2 separate regions of the Homo sapiens genome follow, and region 2 is linked to region 1. A link means that fine-mapping ties the variant in region 1 to the expression of a gene that starts in the linked region. Tissue or cell type: monocytes. Region 1 holds a variant in brackets; the other region holds the start of a gene. All regions are shown on one strand. Distances are between the middles of the regions.

Region 1 (5,253 bases):
CTTGATGGTCCAGAGGAGGTACGGCATCTCATTTTTTACCAACCTAGACTGGCAAGAAAAAAGTCTTTATTGATGCCCAGCATTCAAGGTTCACACCAGCCAGGATGGGATGGAGTGAGGCAACCATCAGAGGACAAATGGCGTGCAGCGTGAGGATCCCAGCCGGGCTCTGCTGCAGGCAGTAGTGCTCCTTGTGGGCCTCCTGCACATGGGATGTGGGGCGCAACCAGGACCACATACGGTTTCCACAGAGGGGCCTCGGGCTCTGGGGGGCCACCCCGATGTGGGGCTGCAGGTGGGGTCTGAGCCGTCCGCATGGGGTCTACGTGGGTGTGGGGACGTGCCACTTGCCGAGGTGACACGACACTTCATAACCCAGAGCTTACAGTCCCCAGGACCGAAGCCCCCAGGCCTGTACCATGGGCCCTGCACACCCCTCCCTGAGCCCCAGGCACTGGCCTCCCGCTCCTCCCCTGCTGATAGAGGGGTTGGTCGTGGAGCTGGGGGCCTGTTGTTGGTGCTTTTCTGTTTATAACAATGGCATGTGTTAAGTCAAAATTCCAACCAGGCTGGGTGCAGTGGCTCACGCCTGTAATCCCAACACTTTGGGAGGCCAAGGCAGGCAGATCACCTGAGGCCAGGAGTTCAAGACCAGCCTGACCAACATGGTGAAACTCGTCTCTACTAAAAATACAAAAATTAGCCGGGCGTGGTGGCGGGCGCCTGTAATCCCAACTACTCCGGAGGCTGAGGCAGGAGAATCACTTGAACCCAGGAGGCAGAGGTTGCAGTGAGCCGAGATTGCACCATTGTACCCCAGCCTGGGCAACAGAGTGAGACTCCATCTGAAAACACCCCCCCAAAAAAGTGTGTGTGTGTGTGTGTGTGTGTGTGTGTAAATAATAGCATACTAATCACTAACCACTGGGTACTGGGGTGAGAAACAGCATCGTCAACAGAGCCGAAGTCCCCCAGCCGCCCCCACCCGGTAACTGCCACCTGCTTCTGTCTGTCCTCCAGGCACAATGAGCAGAATGTTTCTGTCTCTCTGGAATGCATGTGCTACAATCCTCATCCCCAGGGCGATGGCATAGGAGGCTTTAGGATTAGGTCATGAGCCTGAGCCCCTTATGATGGGCTAGCACCCTTATAAAAGAGGCCCCAGAAAAACCCTCGCCCCTGGGTGAGGACGCAGAGAGAAGCCAGCCGTCCATGAAGCAGGACACTCTCACAGCACCCAGCCACACTGCCCCAACCCAGACTCCAGCCTCCAGAACAGTGAGGAATGTTCTGATGTGTCCACACCACTGCCCACGGACCTGTGGGAGCCGCTGGAGCACCCAGGATGCTCTGTAGGAATGGCACTGACTCCAGGAACCTGGAAGGGCGAGCTCACTGGCCATGTGGGAGGCGCCTCATCAAATCTGGGCCCATTTTTCTATTTGTCTTTTCATTACTGATTTGTGAGTTCTTCATATATTCTGGACATTTGATCTTTTAAATTTTAAGTACTGCAAATGCCGCCTCCCACCCTGGTTTCTCTTTCGCCCTCTTTATGGTGGAGTGTTGGGAGCCCCGGAGGGACTAGGCTGGGCTGGGGAGGTGGGGAGGCACATACTACTGTGTTGCTGGAGACAGGAGCTCACTCGCTGGCCAGGCCCCATCCTGCAACACACCAGCCGGGCTGTCCGAGCCCTGCCGGGCCTCAGTGCCCTCAGCTTCCACATGCGCACAGCAGGCCAGCCCAGTGTGGGTGGAGGGGAGCTGGGAGCACCGGGTCCACCCACTACACAGCGGCTCATCCAGCACCGAAGGGCTCGCCCCACCCCTGGGGGCAGCCAGGCCCTGCTGCCCGGTCAAGGGGCCCTGCTGTGACTGGGGCTTTGCCCTCGCCGGGCTGCCATCCCCCCAGGACATGGGAGAGTGGGCACGGAGCAGGGCGACGGTGTGAGAAGCTTTGGAGAGGCCGCAGCTGACCATGACGCATGCAGGGGACGTACCATCACGTCGTGGATGTTGTCTGTTTTCTCCAAAGCCATTTCTTGATTTTCTTTGACTTTGGCACATGTATCATCTGCCAACAAAACACAGGGGAGGCCTGAACATGAAGCCTCAGCCAGACTTCCCGCACCGGGTCCGTTACCACAACCGCAGGCAGGACAGCGACTTTACTTCCAGAAACCTGGCTCCAGATGGGGCCTTCCCCTGGTGGAGCAGGAGCCTCTGTGGGTCCTGAGTCAGGCTTGGGGCATTCTGGCAGCCCCCATACATCCAATGAGCGTCCACCGCACAGCACCTCCCCAGGGCTGTGACAGGGCTTGGGGGCCCGGGATTCCTGGAGGCCCAGGTGTCCCCAGGTGTGGAATGGTGGAGACAGCCCGGGATGGGGGTGGGAGTGATAGAGGCTGAGGGGCCACAGGCAGGGGTGGAGGAGGAGGGGGACATTTGATCCGGGTCTCAATGGGGCCAAGAGGATGCAGACACAGCTGTGCAGATGTCAGCGAGGAGCAGCCAGCACCACGGGGGCCTGAGGAGTGGACTTCAGGGACCTGGGGCTGGAGGAGGGACAGCTGAGGCCGGGCGGAGAGAGGATGACAGAAACCGCCCGGGCAGGAGGAGGCCTGGGTGGAGGCCACAGGGACTCTGAGAAGGGAGCAGGGCTGGGGGCTTGAAAGGGTTTGCCTGGCACGACCGCCTGGGGCAGGGAGGCCAGGAGGGTGATGGAGACCTGGGGTCGGAGATACCCCATCACGCACACCAGGGCCGAGGGGCAGGCACCACACTCAGGCCGGCGCCGACTCCTCCTGCCCGTGACAGACGCACACGCCCTGAGCTGAGACGTGCGCCTCCGATACGCTACCATTGACCCGGGCGCCTTCATCCTCGACATCCGGAATGACCTTGGGCAAAAAGTGGAACTTCTTCTCTACCCAGCCCTTCCTTCGCAGAGCGGCCCGGACCACCGGGTAGTGTCCGTAGATAGAGAAAATCTTCTTCTCCTAAAATGGCAAGAGGATATTTTATTTTATTTCAATCATTTTTGGGGAATAGGCAGATTTTGGTTGCATGGATAAGCTTGTTAGTGCTGGTTTCTGAGATTTGGGGGCACCCATCACCCAATATGTC[CT/C]TTTTTTTTTTTTTTGAGATGGAATCTCACTCTGTCATCCAGGCCGGAGTGCAGTGGGGCAATCTCAGCTCACTGCAACCTGTCTTCCAGGTTCAAGCAATTCTCCTGCCTCAGCCTCCCAAGTAGCTGGGATTACAGGTGCCTGCCACTAAGGAAGGAGACCACTACTACTCCTGCTGCCCTCCTCCCCCACCTTGCCTAGTTCACAAGACAGGAGGAGAGAAAGAGCAAAAAGTTGGGGGAAAAGAAAAGTAAGATAAATAGCCAGACAACCTTGGCACCACCACCCAGCCCTAGGAGTTAAAAAAAGTAATAATAATAACATCAACCCCTGACCTAAACTACTTGTGTTATCTGTAAATTCCAGACACTGCATGAAAAAAGCATTGTAAAACTTTCTGTTCTGTTAGCTGATGCATGCAGCCCCCAGTCACGTTTCCCATGCTTACTTGATGTATCACGACCCTTTCACGTGGACCCCTTAAAGTTGTAAGCCTTTAAAAAGGCCAAGAATTTCCTTTTCTGGGAGCTCAGTTCTTAAGACGCGAGTCTGCTGACACTCCCGGCCGAATGAAAACCTCTTCCTTCTTTAATCCGGTGTCTGAGGAGTTTTGTCTGTGGCTCATCCTGCTACACCACCAGGCCTGGCTAATGTTTGTATTTTTTAGTAGAGATGGGGTTTCATCATGTTGGCCAGGCTGGTCTTGAACTCCTGACCTCAGGCGATCTGCCCACCTTGGCCTCCCACAGTGCTGGGATTACAGGCGTGAGCCACCGCGCCCAGCCCCAATATGTAATCTTTTATCCCTCTCTCCCCTCCCAATCTTCCCCCAAGTCTCCAAACTCTATCTTATCATTCTTATGCCTTTGCATCCTCATAGCTTAGCTCCCTCTTATGAGAACAAGCGATATTTGGTTTTCCATTCCTGAGTTACTTCGCTTGGAAGAATGGCCTTCAGCTCCATCCAGGTTGCTGCAAAAGACATTATCTGGTTCCTTCTTATGGCTGAGCAGTATTCCGTGGTGCAGATACACCACAGTTTCTTTATCCGCTCGTTGGTTGATGGGCATTTTGATTGGTTCCATATTTTTGCAGTTGTGAACTGAGCTGCTGCAAACATGCGTGAGCAAGTATCTTTTTTGTATCATGACTTCTTATCATCTGGGTAGATGCCCAGGAGTACGGTTGCTGGATCAAATGGTAGATCTACTTTTAGTCCTTTAAGGAATGTCCACGCTGTTTTCCACAGTGGTTGCACTAGTTTATATTCCCACCAGCAGCGTAAAAGTGTTCCCTGTTCACCACTTCCACGCGGACCTCTATTACTTTTTCACTCTTTCATTATGGCCATTCTTGCAGGAGGAAGGTGGTATCACATTGTGGTTTTAATTCGCATTTCCCTGAGAATTAGTGATGCTGAGCGCTTTTTCACGTTTGTTGGCTGTTTGTATAGTATTTTAAGTCAAGGAATTGAAAAATAAGTTGATTATTTTTCTGTAAGAGGAGTTTTCAAAGCAGAAGGAGACAAACTGTGCTCTGGCAGGAAGACATCTGCTCAAAGAAGACCATGCCCACACCCAGGCACACAGCGGACGAAGCGGCACAATTACAGCTGTAGCTGGGAACCCTGAGTCTGAGTCCCAGCACCCATACGAGACATCCGGTCGGTCCCAGCACCTCTCTGGGAACCCCGAGTCTGAGTCCCAGCACCCACACGAGACATCTGGTTGGTCCCAGCACCGCTCTGGGCCGCTGTCTACTCCGATAATCAGTCTGAGGCCTGTCACCCGCCCACGTGGCTGTGCACGTGAATGAGCCTATCACCCGAGGCTTTGGGGAGAACGGTGGGGGAGCTGGACAGTCCGCAAGAGGGCTGGCACCCTCCGACTCCACAAGACACTCTGCCACCCCCAACACCCTGCTTAGCTGTGGTCAAACTGAGTAACTTTAGAAAAATGGATGGGCAGAATACAATTCCTAAGGAAACCACCAAAGGAATAAAAACAGCGTAAGATTTCCAACAGGTAAGAGAGGGGAAAGGGGGATTTAAAAAGTAACCAGTCCGGGAGAGCACATGAAAGGAGAGGAAAGGAAAATTGAACCAAAGGAACGTACTAAATGAATG
Region 2 (5,000 bases), 140 kb after region 1:
GCCTGAGATGTGGGTGGTGGCCCAGGGCCTGCGGCTGAGGTCCTGCCTCAGTTTCCCCAGCACGCTCCCTGAGGACTCAATCTCCCCCTTTTCTGCTTCTCGCCCCTCACAGCCTAGTGCAGCCCTGCAGGGGACCCCAGCCGGATCGGAGGGCAGTTCTGCTTCTCCACTGTCTGCTGCCCACCGGGGGCTGGGATCTCGGACACTCTCCCCTCCCCAACTGGCCACCTTGCCCAGGTGAGTCAGAGGGTCGTTCTGCAGCCCGGGGGCCAGCGTTGGTTTGAAATAGTGCCCCCTCCTGCCCCTCCCCCTCCCTGAGCATAAGCAGGCCTGGCAGGTGGATAGAACCGTCCCTCTCATGGAGAAGGAGGGGCTCCAGGAGGACCTTGCACCCATCCCAGATGGCCAAGACTGAGAACCCAGGCCTCCAGCCCCCAGGCCAGGGATCTTCCCTCCACACCAGCCCAGCACTGAGAAATGGGTGAGGTGGAGCCGGGGCGACTGCCACCCGCTGCCCTCCTGTGAGGATGTGGCCGAGATGGTCGGAAAGGCAGAATGACCACAAAGGCAGCGAACAATGAGAATCAATGGAGAGGATGTGAACCAGAGGCCCTAGGGCCCAAAGTGAGTGTCCTTCACCAAGGAGGACAGAGGCCTCTCTAAGGCCAGGCCTGGCCATTTGGGGACCAGGAAGCTGTAGGAGGGGGCGGGGCCTCTTGTGTAAGAATGCTCAGTGGGCAGCCAGCCCAGCCTGCTGCCGTGTGGACAGGCATTTTCACCCATCCGCCCCACCCCGGGAGGACCACCTGCAGACTCAGGACCAGGGACCTGAGGGGACCCCTGCAGGCCACCCGAGCCGGGGCAGCTCCTCAGAACCTGGGGCTGGGGCCGGGGCCTCCCTTCCTGGAGCCTGGAAGGAAGCAGGCTCCCCAGCACGGAGTCCTGGTGGACGGCCTCAGGCAGACCCAGACCAAGCCTGGGCGCTGCGTTGGACTCCCCCAACCCCAGGCCTGCTGGGTCAGCCTTCCAGGCTCGCTGAAGGTTCCTGCGTGGGGCAGCCCTCACTGAGGTCCTCCCCGTGGCTCCAGAGAGGAGCTAGTCCTAGGGCACTCGAGTAGAGAGGTGCGCCCTCCTCCCTCTTCTAAATGGTTCCCCAGCTGGCCCCACCTGGCCCCTTTCCCCAACTAACTCATCAGTGCCTGGCAGGAAGACACAGCAGCCCTCCCCCGGTGACTGGAGTCCTGGCCCCAGGGCAGGCCCCGCTCCAAGAACCTGATCCTTTGGCTGGGGCAGGGCCGTAGAGGTGGGCGCAGAGCTTCGGGGAGCTGGCTGTGGGGTCCGCGCATGCAGCCCGCAGGCAAACCATTGCCAGGCCCACGCCTGCACTAAGCCCAGCGCCAGCGCCAGGTCAGCCAAGAACCCGGGGTCGTGGAGGAGGAAGGAAGTCGTGGGCCCGGGATGCGCGGCCGGACCATTGCAGGAGAGCGGGGCAGGCGGACGGCGCAGCAGCTTGCGGGCAGCGAGTCGTCTGCATGCGGCGGCGAAGCGCCCGGGCCCCCGTCCGCGCCGGTGCCCGCAGCGCGCAGCAACTTGGCCGCCGGGTCCCGGCCGCCCCGGTAGAGGCTGGGTACAGCGAGGGGGCCGGGCGCCCGGGCAGGACGGGCGCGGCGGGTGGGGCCTGGCCGTCTCCCCCTGCCCTCGGGGCCGAACACGCACAGCGAGAGTCTAGCGTCGGCGTGGCTGCGGCCAGCCGGGTCCCCCTGGAGGCCTCCGGACGATCGGAAGTGACTGAGCGTCCGGGTCCGTGAGGCCGGGGGTCGGCCCGCCCTAAGACTCCCACCTGGTCCCGGTTCTCCGTCCGCTAGGCTGGCCGCGGGGCCCCTGGGGCCCGACCTTCCCGGGGTGCCCCAACCTGCGGCAAGGCCGAGGTCCCGCTGAGGCATGAGTCCCGGGTCGGGGACCGCTCTGGGCCGACCCCCGGAGGACGGACTAGGCCGATCCCCAGAGGGAAGGGGGCCAGGCCGAGGCCATGGCAGCGCGTTCCCTGATCCCGTGTTCTCGGCTCCTCGCGTCCCACTATCGGCTGTCCCTTTCGTGCGGGACTGACGGCTCACAGAACAGTTACATTTCAATATCATTCGACTGAAAACCATCCTGTGGACGCCGTGCGAGCATTGTCCCCATTTCACAGCTTGGGAGCTGCGACCAGAGAACGTGGGCGCGCCTCGCAAGGCCGTGACCGCGGCGGGACTCGAACCCTCCCTCCTGAGTGCGCGCCGATGTTCCTTAGGACCCGGGAGCGCCGGGGGGGGGGGGGGGGGCGGGGGCCCCGCGCGCTACCCCCTGGGAAGTGTAGTCCGAAGTTGCGGGCCGGGGCCAAGCAGGAGGCGCGTGGGACTACACTTCCCGGCATGCCACGCGGCCGCCGGCGCCCTCGGCCCGTCCGCCCCGCCCCGCCCCGCGGCCCCAGCCCGCCCCGTCCGTTGAGGGCCCGCGCCGCATGGAGGCCGGCTGAGGAGCGCCGCTGCCTCGCCTCGGTACGCCGCGCGGCGCGGACGGCGCGTGCGTGAGGACGGGGCCCAGCACCGAGCGGGGGGCGGGCCCGGGTCAGGGCCGCGGGGTGACTGTGGGGGGCGGGGGGAGCGAGCCCGAGTCGGGGGGTGGGGGCCGGGGGCGGGGGGGGTCAGGCCCGGGTCAGGTTTTGGGGCCGGGGTAGCAGGTCGTGGGGGTCAGGCCCGGATCAGGTTCAGGTTTTGGGGCCGGGGGAGCAGGTCGTGGGGGTCAGGCCAGGGTCAGATTCAGGGTTTGGGGCTGGTAGACCAGGGTCGTTGGGGGCCGGGCCCGGGTCAGGTTTGGGGGCCGGGGTGGCAGGTCGTTGGGGGGGCCAGGCCCGGGTCAGGTTTTGGAGCCGGGGGAGCAGGTCGTGGGGGTCAGGCCCGGGTCAGGTTTGGGGCGGGAGCAGGCCCCGCGCGTCCCCTGCCACCGCTGCCGGGAGCGGCGCTGCCGAGGAGCGGAGCCCCCCAGGGCTGGGGCGGGGAGGGTCAGCGGCGGCCTCGCGGGAAGGCGCGGGTCGGACCTCGAGTCCCAGGGTCCTCGCGGGTCGGGAGGGCCCCAGCCACCCCCGCCTGCCGCCTGCGGTGGAGCCGGCCGAGGTGAGAGTGGAGGAAGGCGGCCCAGGCCTGCGGGTCTCTGGGGGTGCTGGGGGAGGCCGAGCGGGAGGCCCCGGACCCCCGTTGTCCCCTCCGGCCCCGCTGAAACCTGGGGCTTCGCTCTTCTGTAGGTGCCTTTGCCCTTCAATTGGAGCAGAGCGGGGTTCCCATATGGGCGAAGTGGACGCCAGATCGTCCCCCGCTGTGCGCAGCCCAAACTTAAAAGGTCTTTTTAACTGAGCTATCATGAAGCTGCCGTGTGTCTTTGTCAAAACTCTTACAAGAAAGATGGAGTGGGAGCTGTCTGGGCACTAGCGTCCCAGAAACAACCAGGAACTTGTGGAGGTGCTAAGCTCCCTGCGGGGACTCCCGCAGCCTCGGTAGCCTCCAGATGGAAGCCTCCTAGCTTTCAGGTCCCTGAAGAGGCCGTGCAGGCCGCCAGGCTCACTGCGCTGTGTGTCTCTGCTCCCCGCTTGCTGCCGCCGCCCTTGCAGTGTGACTGGTGGGGATGCTGGCCAGCCTCGCCGGAGGCCCTGATGCTGTGGGGTCCGAGGAGGGGGCCTGGCAGGGTGGGTGGGTGGCAGGAGCCTGTGGGGCCCCCTGCATGGTGGTCAGTGTGGGGGCTCTGCATTGACTGTGACCAGGTCCTGGGAGGTTGGGGGCTGCCAGGTGTGCTGGCAAGGAGGCCTCGGGCTCTGGCTCAGGTGTGTTTCCCGTCTCCCAGCTCTGCCACACCTGCGTGAAGCGGTCCCGCCAAAGCCGGGAGGGGTTTCCTGTGGCCAAAGGTGCCAGGCATCAGAAACAGGAAGCAGGGGAGGTCAAAGCTCTGGGCCACACCCTGGTCCCTCCAAGTTTGTCATTTCTGCAACCCCCAGGTCTGACCAGTTTGGAACCTGGGCTTTCTGAGCCGGTCTAGTGGGTTGGTTGAGAGATGGGGGTTTTTCTGGTAACTGCATTTGGTGCTAGCCAGTTTTTGGTCTGCACTAGGAAGCTAGGCTGCAGTCTGGGAGGCAGTTTCTAGTGGGGTGAAGGGGATAAGATGGGTGTCTTAGCTCTAGCTGCTGTAACAAAGCATCACAGACCAGGAAACTTTAAAAAACAGCAGGCTGGGCTGGGTGTGGTGGTTCACGCCTGTAATCCCAGCACTTTGGGAGGCCGAGGCGGGCAGATCACGAGGTCAGGAGATGGAGACCTTCCTGGCTAACACGGTGAAACCCCGTCTCTACTAAAAAATACAAAAAATTAGCTGGGTGTAGTGGCAGGCGCCTGTAGTCCCAGCTACTCGGGAGGCTGAGGCAGGAGAATGGCGTGAACCCGGGAGGCAGAGCTTGCAGTGAGCCGAGATCATGCCACTGCACTCCAGCGTGGGCAACAGAGTGTGACTCTGTCTCAAAAACAAAAATGAGGTCTTGGCCTGGCGCAGTGGCTCACACCTGTAACCCCAGCACTTTGGGAGGCCGAGGCAGGTGGATCACAAGGTCAGGAGTTCAACACCAGCCTGGCCAAGATGGTGAAACCCCATCTCTACTAAAAATACAAAAATTAGCTGGGGGTGGTGGCGCACGCCTGTAATCCCAGCTACTCGGGAGGCTGAGGCAGGAGAATCGCTTGGACCTCAGGGTGGGGGAGGTTGCAGTGAGCCAAGATCACGCCACCGCACTCCAGCCTGGGCGACAGAGTGACACTCCGTCTCAAATAAAAAAAAAATGAGGTCTCGCTAAGTTGCCCAGACTGGTCTTAAACTCCAGACCTCAGACAATTCTCCTACCTCAGCCTCTCCTGAGTAGCTGGGGCTGTGAGCGAGTAGGCTCCTCCCACCATGCCTCACTGGTGCTGGGAAAAAACTTAACA

Evidence for each region. PIP is the estimated chance that this variant, and not a neighbour inherited with it, causes the effect.
Region 2: it holds the start of TRABD, and the variant in region 1 is fine-mapped to the expression of TRABD in monocytes (Quach 2016, PIP 0.95).

The regions. Positions count from the first base shown.
Region 1 is chr22:50,047,249-50,052,501 of GRCh38, forward strand. TTLL8 (tubulin tyrosine ligase like 8) reads right to left here. Exons shown (of 14, transcript NM_001350317.3): 4 at 2,861-2,999; 5 at 2,001-2,074; 6 at 1-48. Among named protein-coding and RNA genes, the nearest start is that of TTLL8, 8.4 kb to the right of the region's middle. The variant CT/C (reference allele first, on the strand shown) is at 3,127.
Region 2 is chr22:50,183,440-50,188,439 of GRCh38, forward strand. It overlaps TRABD (TraB domain containing), which reads left to right and starts at 2,474. Exons shown (of 10, transcript NM_001320485.2): 1 at 2,474-2,537. RefSeq lists an enhancer at 186-761 and silencers at 1,647-1,716, 1,907-2,006, 2,277-2,646, 2,913-3,222, 4,163-4,212.